2 separate regions of the Homo sapiens genome follow, and region 2 is linked to region 1. Evidence: fine-mapped expression QTL. Tissue or cell type: whole blood. Region 1 holds a variant in brackets; the other region holds the start of a gene. All regions are shown on one strand. Distances are between the middles of the regions.

What was found. PIP is the estimated chance that this variant, and not a neighbour inherited with it, causes the effect.
Region 2: ANKRD13D starts here. The variant in region 1 is fine-mapped to the expression of ANKRD13D in whole blood (TOPMed, PIP 0.93).

What each region holds. Positions count from the first base shown.
Region 1 is chr11:67,409,359-67,414,498 of GRCh38, reverse strand. TBC1D10C (TBC1 domain family member 10C) reads right to left here. Exons shown (of 9, transcript NM_001369496.1): 9 at 4,410-5,092. The coding sequence ends at 4,745. Among named protein-coding and RNA genes, the nearest start is that of CARNS1, 3.7 kb to the left of the region's middle. RefSeq lists enhancers at 1,456-1,955, 1,956-2,457, 2,484-2,623. The variant C/T (reference allele first, on the strand shown) is at 1,945.
Region 2 is chr11:67,286,256-67,291,395 of GRCh38, reverse strand. It overlaps ANKRD13D (ankyrin repeat domain 13D), which reads right to left and starts at 2,093. Exons shown (of 15, transcript NM_207354.3): 1 at 1,846-2,093; 2 at 1,183-1,318; 3 at 950-1,074. The coding sequence starts at 1,935. It overlaps GRK2 (G protein-coupled receptor kinase 2), which reads right to left. Exons shown (of 21, transcript NM_001619.5): 21 at 4,840-5,140. RefSeq lists enhancers at 1-818, 819-1,743, 2,978-3,187, 3,938-4,187 and silencers at 1,738-2,507, 2,688-2,757.

The DNA of each region.
Region 1 (5,140 bases):
CTCCTGACCTCAGGTGCTCCTCCTGCTTCGGCCTCCCAATGTCCTGAGAATACAGGTGTAAGCCACTGTACCCAGCCGAGACCCTATCTCTCTCTCTTTTTTTTTTTTTTTTTTTTGACCCTATCCCTTTTTTTTTTTTTTTTTTTTTTAAGACAGAGTCTTACTCTGTCACCAGGCTGGAGTGCAGTGGCACAATCTTGGCTCACTGCAACCTCCGCCTCCCCGGGTCCAGTGATTCTCCTGCCTCAGCCTCCCAAGTAGCTGGGACTACAGGTGCGAGCCACCATGCCCAGCTACTTTTGTTTTGTTTTGTTTTGTTTTGTTTTTGAGATGGAGTTTCGCTCTTGTTGCCCAGGCTGGAGTAGCTGGGATTATAGGCATGCGCCACCATGACAGCTAATTTTGTATTTTTAGTAGAGACAGGGTTTCTCCATGTTGGTCAGGCTAGTCTCGAACTCCCGACCTCAGGTGATCTGCCCGCCTCAGCCTCCCAAAGTATTAGGATTACAGGCATGAGCTACCGCGCCCAGCCCACCCAGCTAATTTTTGTATTTTTAGTGGAGACGGGGTTTCATGATGTTGGCCAGGATGGTCGCAATCTCCTGACCTCATGATCTGGTCACCTTGGCCTCCCAAAGTGCTAGGATTACAGGTGTGAGCCACTGCACCTGGCCCCCCTATCTCTTTAAAAAAAAAAAAAAAGAAAGAAAAAAGAAGAGAAAAGAAAGGAAAAGAAATCTGCTCTGCTTATCAACACCCACCCAGGTCAACTTCACACCCGGAGTTGAAGCTATAATCTCCCCAAGACATACATACTCACACCCAAGTGTACCCACCCAACCACAGAAGCATACCCCAGGAGACCTGGGTCTCAGCCACAATTCACCCACAGAAGCACAACCAGAGATTCACCCCCTCTCCTGGAGTGTGTCCCACCAGTGGGTTTCAATCCTAGCTCTGGCTGTGGGACCTGGGCCCCTCCCCTTTGTGATCTGAAGCTCACTCTCCCCAGCCTAGAATGGGGCTGGTTTCCCTCTCCTAGGCAGGGCAGCCTATGGCTCTAACTCCTCCCTCTCACAGTCCCCAGTCAGCCCTTCTCCCTGCCTGTCTCGCAACTGGACACATATTGAGCCCTGGCTGTCCTTGAGAGCCTCCTGGCCTGGGGGAGAATACTGAGGGGCCCACACATGTCAGGGACAGAGATGACAGCTGTTGGACCCTTTCTGCAACTATATACAGGGCAGTCTGTGCAGACCCATCCCTGTCTACCACTGGAGAGGGTCGGCAGAGAGGGGAAATGGCTTCTCCAGGATGCCCAGTCCAGCCCACATTCCCCACACAACTTCCAGGCCCACGTGCAGCCCTCCCTACAGCTGGTCCAGGCTCCAGGAATGAGGAACCAGCCCCATTCTAGGCTGGGGAGAGTGAGCTTCAGATCACTAAGGGGAGGGGCCCAGGTCCCACAACCACCCCAGGAGACCCAATCGCTTGCCACCTGGGTGGCCTGAGCGCCCATGGGGTCCCACTGTGGGGCCTGGGCGTGATCCAAAGAGCATGAGCTTTGACATTTAACATTTAACAAGCTCTGCAGCCCTGGGGACTCAGTTTTCTCATCTTCAAATGGGGATACAGTGCACACTCAGCCCAGGCTTAACACTTCACATGCAAGGGAGCAATTATGAGACTGAGAGAGGTCGTGTGACTTGCCCAAGGTCACACAGCTGGTGAGAGGCAGAGCCGGGATCTTCTGCCAGAATGCGTGCATGCATGCACAGAGTGCTGCGGCTGTGCCCTCTCCTAGGCCACCCTGTCTGGTCCCTGGCTGCTCTGGCTTTTGCCTTGTGGATACAGGGAGGAAAATCAGAGTTGGGCAGCTGCAGCCCAAGCTCAGGATCCTGGGACTTGGGGCAGGCAGGTGGGCGGGTGGTTCTGCTCTGCCCCTGC[C/T]AGGAAAGCCTGGACATCACCTGAGGCTAGGTAGGGGTGGGGTGAGGAGAGGCAGTGCTTTGGCTGCTGTCCCGCTGGACTGAACAGTCATCATCATCATCATCATGAGCTGGTAGAGCCCTCTTGAGGCTGGGGTGGGGGCTATTATAATCCCATTATCCGCAGGAGAATACTGAGGCTCAGAGGAGAAGAAAGGGCCTTTCCCATGCAGGTGAGTCCAAGTCTGACCCCTCTGGGAGCCTGGAACAGTGTGGGAATTCAGGGAACCTCAAGTGGGTGGCAGGGCAAGATGGAGACCGTGGGTCCTCCCCGCCGATCCATGGCAGGCACCCATTTGTCCTGCTCCACTCCTTTGCATGCCCCCACTCGTGTCCACTCTGAGGCAGGCTGACAGACATCCCAGGGGCCCTCCCAGCTTCAGTCCCCACACACTGAGTCCTCTCAGATGCATCACTTCCCTTCTCTGAGCCCCCTTCCAGGCAGATCTGTAGGGACTTTCTAGGTTCACTGAGCATGTTTGTGTAGGTTGCTCACTGCACAAAGGCACCTGGGAGAGAGATCACACCCCACTCTGCTACACCGTGCACTCTGGTGAGGCTGCATGTTGCCTGGAGGAGAGACGTCTTTCCCTAGCTGGCAAAAAGGTGCTGTGGGGGCCGGTGCAGCCCTGCGGAGGAGAGCCTGTGAGAACGCATGTGTGCGAGGGTTCACACCCGGAGGGCACTGGGCCTCTTCTGTCCAGCCTGTGAGTTAGGGCTCCCATGCAGGTGACTGATAAGGAAACCTACAGAAGAGCTGCCCAGAAAACAGTCTCCTGAGTAGGAAAGGCAATGACTGAGCCCCAGCTGGAGGGACGCTGCTGGAGACCACCGGCTCCTAGGGTCTGTGTCCAGGGTGAGCCACTGCCACCGCGCCCCCGCAGGCTCATGACAGACCCTCGGCCCAGGGCTGAGGCTGCTGCACCTTGCTCCTCTATTCTCCCAGGCAAAGAGCTGAACTGTGGAGGGCGGGGAGCTCCCAAGTGGATTTCAGGGACAAGTGCCCCCTGACCCCGGCCACCCTGCCCGCTACAGTGCCTGAGATTCCACCAAGACACTCCTCGTCTAAGGATAAGGCATAGTCTACACAGCACAGAGCCTTGCCTCTGCATTCCAGCCGGCTCTGCCTTTCACTGTGGGCCTGGGTGAGGTCCTTGTCCTCACTAAGCCTGTGTCTCTAACAGGGATATCAGGGGCCACCTGCAGAGAGAGGGCCTAGGGGCGGGGGGTCTGGGAAAGGGTTTTGTAAACTACAGGTAAGGAGGCTATTATTAAGTTGCAGGCACCCCAGCGGGGTAAGGAGGAGTGGGCAGAGGAGGCTCTGGAGCGCGCTCTAAATCACGGGAGTCTGGCTATTGCCTCATTCACACACTGAGGGGCTGGTGCAGGATTGGGGGTAGAGCGGGGAAGGAGCAGGAGAAAGCACTCCCAGGGGGCTGCCCAGGGGGGAGCTGCCAGTGGTTGGGGCAGGGCTAAACCTTGGGTCTGCTATGGATAGATAGTAAGGCTTTCTGCAAGTTCCTGCTCCTCCTGAGCCTCAGTTTCCCCCGGAGAAACGACAGATAAGGAAGGGTCTGGGCCGCCATGATTCCCTCTTCCAGGGGTTAGGCTCCTTGGGAGTAGGACAAGTCTGCCCAGGACCCAGGACCTGGCACTTGCCACATAGACGCAGCCTGTGGCCCTGTCGCAAGAACATTCCAAACCCAGAGTCTGACAGGTGACTCCACTGACACCCCACCCAATGGCCACCCCTGGAGCCTGGGCCTGCAGATGCCTCCCATCCATATGGAGTCCTGCCGTGTTCCCCATCGAAGGGAGGGCACTTGGGAATGGACACTGCGGGACACACGCCTGTGTCGGAACCAGCCCTGTTGCCCTGGCGATGGCTCAGGTCCTGGGCACCCACGGGGGCTATTAGTGAGTGTGGGAGGGGGTTTCCATGGTGGCGGTCCCGAGGGGGCAGACGCAGGGCCCAGGGAGGGGTGAGGGCTGGCGGGACCTTTCTCCTTTGTCCGAGGCACACTAGGCCTTTGTTCTTGCCTGGATCCCTTTGACAGATGTGACTAGAACCATGGGTGCGGGGAGGACTTGGGTTAGAGTCCCCCATCCCAGCGAGTACTGAACCACCCTGGAGGGAGGGGAAGGAGGGCAGAAGAGGGGGTAGAGCCCCTGGACTCGCCATCCACTGGGGCGCCCTCCTCCTGCAGGTGCAAAAGCCACTCCTGTCCCCAGAGGCTGGGCAGGGCAACTTTCAATTGGCTCTTATTACTGTAAACACCTTCCCCAGCGGCCAGTGGGCAGCCTCGGTGTGTCCCCAGGGCAGGACCAGGAGAGGGCGGGGCTGGGAAGGGCAGATGAGGGAGGAGGGGAAGGGGCTGCCTGTCTGGGGTTGGGAGGAGGGCATTTGATCCAGCGCCATCCAAGGCATCTGTTCAAGAAGATTTTATTCCTGGTGCCCTCTGGGGTCCCTTGACTCAGCCAACCCCTTCCCTGACTCCTTTGGTGCTGGCTTTGGTACTTGTGAGGGCCTGGGCACCAGGACGGTTCCATGGGTCCTCACGTGCCCCACTCTGTGACCCTCCTCCATGCTAGTGCCTGACCCAGTATGTACCACGGAGGACCTCCTCCTTCCCCACTGCCTGGTCCTTGCCAGGAAGGAAGCCAAGTCCCCGAGTCCCAAGAGTAAAGTGCGGTGCCTATTTGCCGGGCCGGCATCAGCCATCAGGCAATTGAGACTGGGGGACACTAAGTCCATGGTCCTCTCAGAAGCGGGTGTCCAGGAAGGAGGTGGAGCCTCGTTGGGGCCTGGGGGGCCCCTCGATGGGGGGGCCCCGGGCCCGAGTCAGGAGCCCATGGAAAGTCTTGCCGCGGGTCTGGGGTTTCCGCCGCGGTGGTCTGGGCTCCTCCGGGGGCTGCACCACAATCCGAGGCACCTCAGGCTTGGCGCCTCGTCGCACTCCTGCCAGCTGCTGGGCCTCAAAGATGGCTTGGGCCCCGGCGAGGCGGACCTGTGGCCGGGGCGGGGGTCCCGGCGCGGAATCGGGCAGCTGGGCCAGCTGGGCCTTGATCTCCCGCTGCAGGTCCCGCTCTGACAGCACCACGCTGTGCACCTGTGGGGAGCAGTTGGTGCTGCGTTTGCCCGGCCTCAAGGCAGGAAC
Region 2 (5,140 bases), 120 kb after region 1:
GCCCAGCCCTTCATCAGGTCTTTTTTTTTTTTTTTTTTTTTTTTGAGACTTGCTCTGTCACCCAGGCTGGAGTGTAGTGGTGCAATCTCGGCTCACTGCAACCTCTGCCTCCCTGGGCTCAGGTGATTCTTCCACCTCAGCCTCCCGAGTAGCTGGGACCACAGGTGTGTGCCACCACTCCCAGCTAATTTTTGTACTTTTTGTAGAGACGGCTTTCACCATGTTGCCCAGGCTGGTCTCCACCTCCTGGGCTCAAGTGATCCGCCCACTTTGGCCTCAGAAAGCGCTGGGATTACAGGAGTAAGCCACAACGCCTGGCCCTTCATCAAGTCTTGACGCACTGCTATGGCTCAGCTACGCCCAACCACTCTGCCCTGGAGAGGGTGGGCCAAGTGGGGCACTACAGTGGTCTTCAGACAATGAGGCTGTAAGCACCTGGAGGTGGAGGGCCAGCCTCAACCTGGCCATGAGCCTGTGCAGAGCCCTGGGGGAGCCTTTGTTTCCACTGGGTCTCAGAGTCCTACTCTGTAAAGGGGGCACAGTGGCTCCCTCCGAGCCTGCTCCTGGGGTAGGGGGTATGAGATAGTATGCTCTGCCAGCCAGGCCCCTCCGTGTGCTTCCAGAAGGGTGCGTAGTAGCAAGTATTCCAGGGTTTCAGGCCATAATCCACCGAGTCAACCTGAAGTCCCTGCTCCAGGTAATCTGCATTCTTCAGGAGGCCCAAAGCTGGCAAGGCTTCTCTTCCAAAGGGTCCAGTCTCTCCCACGTGAGCCTGGCCGTCTCTCTTTCCTACGTGACCCTGGGCTGGGGTCAAGATAGACAGACCTCCTTGCTGGTGGCAGGAGGCACACTGCACAAACTGGGTGCCTTTCCAAGGCCAGGCCTGGCACAGTAACCAGGGTGGTGCCCTGCCATGGTACCCCACCTCCATAACTGTGCCCTGCTGTACCTGGCGAAGTTTGTTGAGCAGTTCCGGAATGCCCGCCAGCCTCTGCGTGGCCCTCTGGTAGTCCCGATACTGGAGCACCAGCTGCACCATCTCGGGGTCTCCAGTGCTGACTGCCTCCTGCAGGACTGCGGGCACCAGGCTGCTGAGGGGAGCCCTCCAGATGACCCCAGGCCTGGCTGCTCACTGCCCCCCGCCTGCCAGCCTCAGGGGGAGCCCCTTGTCCTCTGCAGTACCTGCCCAGCCCTGGCGGTTCTCTTTGCCCACGTTGGCATTGTGTCGAAGGAGCACTCTCACAGACTCCAGGTTTCCCAGAGACACGGCCAGCTCCAGTGGGGTCCGCCCGCGGGGGTCCTCCTGTTCAATGTCGTGCTGGGGGAGACGGGACACTCACAAAGGGCAGGAGAGAAGAGGGCAAGGCAGGGAGGCTGCCAGGGCGAGCAGGGTTGGGAATCGCTGTGGGAAATAAGGACGGCGGACTGACCAGGGAGATGGCAGAGGGTGGCCTGCGTGTCCTGGCAGGGGAGAGGAGGGGGCAGGAGGGAAGGCAGGGGCAGAGCCGGGGTCTGGCGGCGGGGCCTGGTCAGGCAGAGCTGCAGGTTGTCAGGAGTTTGGCGGAACCTGGGGACCAGGACCAGAGTTCTTGTTCTCAGCTTGGGTCAGCAAGGATGCGGAAGCGAGTTCGGGCGAGCAGGGCAAGGCCCAGCGCAGGGGAGAGGAGGCCAGAGGCTCAGGCGCGAGGGGCCGGTGACCTGGGCTTGGGATCGTGCAGGGGAGGAAGGCCCAGGATGTGGCTGCGGAGCTGAGCGGGCGGGGGGGGGGGGGGGGCTCCAGGACGGAGGCCACAGCCTTGGGTGGGGGACCCGGGGGAAGGGCCGGGTGCCCCAGCGGGGCCTCACCTGGTGGCTGTGCAGTGCGGCCTCCAGTTCGCGATGCCGGTTCGCCCAGACGAGCCGGTGCAGCGGGAAGGTGGGGCCCGGGCCGGCCATGCTGGGCCTCAGCGCCGCATCCCGGCCCCGCCTCGGCTTCGGGCCTGGCACGGCCCCCTAGCCTCCCCTCCGAGCCGCGCCCCAGCTGCGCCCCCCGCGGCCCCCGCAGCAGTAGCGGCGGCGGCGGCGGCGGCGGCAGCGCGGGCGGCAGGGAGGGCGGGGCGGGCGGCGGAGCGGGCGGGGCTGCGCCGGGCCGGGGCGGGGCTTCGCGCGCGCCCCCGTCCCCCCGCAACCATGGCAACCGCGGCCAGGCCAGCGCGCGGCAGAGCAACCGCGAGCGCCCGAGGAGATGCCCGGCCTTGGGTCTGCGCCCCGACCTCGGTCGGGCCCGGGTCCGCTGGGGCGGCCTGGAGGGCGGTGCCCGGTTACAGCTCCGCCCGCGGCCCGCAGGAGGCGCCCCGAGCCCTGCGCAGACCCCCGGAGCCGGGTCCGGAAGAGGAAGGCGGGGCCGGAGGGGGCGGGCACTGGGCCCCTCGGTAGTGCACGCGCGTGCGCGGCGGGCCGCGGTCCTGCTGCAGCCGTGATGCCTGCGTTTCCCCCGCGGATCCCCTTGCTCGCCCCGGTCTTCCTACCCCAGGTCCCGCGGTCACCGACTCTGCTGGGGTGTGCGGGTGAAGTGGGGCGCCCCGGCTCCCCTCACCCGGCCTGGAGACGAGCAACGAGCAGACGCCACTAAGTGCTTGCCGGCTGAGCGGGAAGCACCTTCCCCTGGGACCTGGCCGGTGTCTGCAGGCCCAGCGATGCGGGGAGGCGGCCCCCGGGGCCCTGAAGTCAGGGATAGGAGTTCGGGGAGAGAGGGGCGCAGGCCCAGGCAGCGGCAGAGCCGTCCCGGCGGAGGACCGCCCGCGGCGAACGGCTGCCTTCGCCCGCCGCACGAGTCCCTTTTGCAGAGGCTGCGGTTGGCTGCCAGCGTCAGGAGAGGAAGGCGAGTTTCGAAATCAGGGCCGGCCCCTCCACCCACACCGGAACTAGGGTGCAGGCCTCCGTCAGCTCAGTTCCGGCCCTTGATTACTGGAGGCCCAGCCTGGGGTCTGGGGCCCTGGTTTTGCTAGGTGGCCAAGGCTGACCCTCTATTCTCCCTTTCCCTACGTGGAACATGATTGAGGAGGGCCAGCTAGCTTGAGCATCACTTCCTGCTGTAGGGCGTCCTCAGTTCTGAGACTCTGGGCTGGAAGGCCTGATTGCCATTTTTACCCTGCCTTCTCCCTGTAGTCACATGGCGCCTGTGCCATCTGGGGTCACTTTGCCACCCCACGCTATGGTGTCAATCTGTGAGGTCCTGGGGTTGGTAGCAGCCCGAAGGCTTCTGAATGCCCAGAGCTCACCTGCTCACCACTACTGCAGCCCTCCCTGGCCACCCCTTTTCTCAGAGGCGGTCCCTTCCCTGAGCCCTCTCCAAACTCAACCCCGACAGGACTTTCTTGGTTCCAGCCTCTCCTGATTTCTGCCATCTTGAACACAGCTCCCCACTGGCACTTAATTCCATGACAGTGCCTTCTCAACCCTCTTCCACGGCCTCCTCTCTCTCCCTGACCCCCACATCCCTGGGAGAGAGACTGTCCGTTCCCATTGTCACCCTGATGCCACCCCCAGGTCCACATTTCAGCTTACTCCAGGACATCTCTGTGCCCAGGGATCCCATGCTATCCCATCAGTATGTCCGAAGCCAACCCAACCACACCTACCCTCTTCCCCAGACTCCCGCCTCACTCAGCCCCAAGTCCAGCCTGTTTCTGCTGGACCACGTTCTTCCCGTCTGGCCTCTTTTCATCTCTTCCTCTCCCACTGCGGAGGTTTGTCTCCCTGCCTCCTGTCCTTCACCTCCCTCCCCACATCCTGTACTCAGTAACCAGGCAATCACTTTAGAGCCAGCTCTCACCACTCTCAGCCCTGTTCCGCACCTTCAAGGGCTCCCTGAGCATGGCAGGTCTGGACTCCATGTCGTTTGTATCTTCATTCTGCAGGCCCTGAGCACACACCTGGCTCCGGGATAGGTTAAGCCTGGCATTCAGTGCCTCCAGGCATGGCTCCTTCCTATAGTCCTCCGGCCAGCCTGGGCCACTCATGAGTCCCTGGCTCTTCCCTGCCTCAGAAATGTCCTCCCTCCTTCCCACACCAATGCTGGAGGCCTGGCTCAAAGGCCATTGCCCCTGACTCTTGTATTCAGCCCTGAGTACCCTGCCCAGCTGCCTGCCTCCCTTCTCTGCCTGGCATGCTGTGCTTTGGCCATGGGCCCCAGCCATGCCCAGCAAAGCCCTGTGTGGAGTGGGCAGCAACATGTATCTGTTTAGTCACCCGCGGGGCTAGGGCAGGGACCTGGGGAAAGGGAAGTTGACCAGAAGCCTCTGGGTAGAGGAGAGGCCTAGTGCTGGGGTTCCCCTCAGGCCTCAGGGACCCCTACTAGGGCTGTGCAGTGAGGCCAGAGAGGAGGCTGAAGCCAGAGATGGCCAAGGGCCCAGAGGCTGCGGTGTGACCTAGAGGGAAGAGGTGCCTTGTGACTGTTTCTGGGGAGGGGCCTCAGCTTGGTGCCTGCTGTGCAGGGGTGTTCTGTGGGCCTGAGACGGTCCCAGTCAGCCCAGACACTGTGCCAGGCCTAACACTGTTGGCACCTCCTCCTGCTTACCTGGGAAGTGGCAGAAGCTGCTCTCTCCTCCCCGGGAAAAGGTGAGGAATGGGCACTGGACAGCCACTAGGTGGAGAGGACTGTCAGCTGGGAGGGGTAGGAGGGGAAGTGGGACCCACTGCCTCACCCCACCTGGAAGATGGCCTGGGCCCGAGCAGACCACCTTGGAAGCCATGGCGGTGGAGGAGACCTGGTACCACCGAGACCCTCCCCATCAGGCCCCAGCCCAGCAGAAGCTGAAAAGGGGTCACCAGGTACAAAAAGAGTCTGAGACAGCCGAATCAGGCACCATTTTTTATAAAAACGCATAGTCTCATTTTTCACTCTTTAAAATCACATTCAAAAATCGGCAAAGAAACGCCCCGGGGAATGAGTAGACGGGAGGGGAGGGTGCGCCAACCCAGCCCCGGGGGGGAGAAGGCGCGACACCACACAGGCAGCGCGACTGGCACGAGGGGGCATGCGGTGGGCGAGGCGGCGGCACTGACAGGACGTGGGCTGTGGGGCTGGCCAGCCTGGGCGGGGGTACACTGATGGGCCAGGATGGGGGGCACACTGATAGGCCCCAGCCAGCCTCCTTGC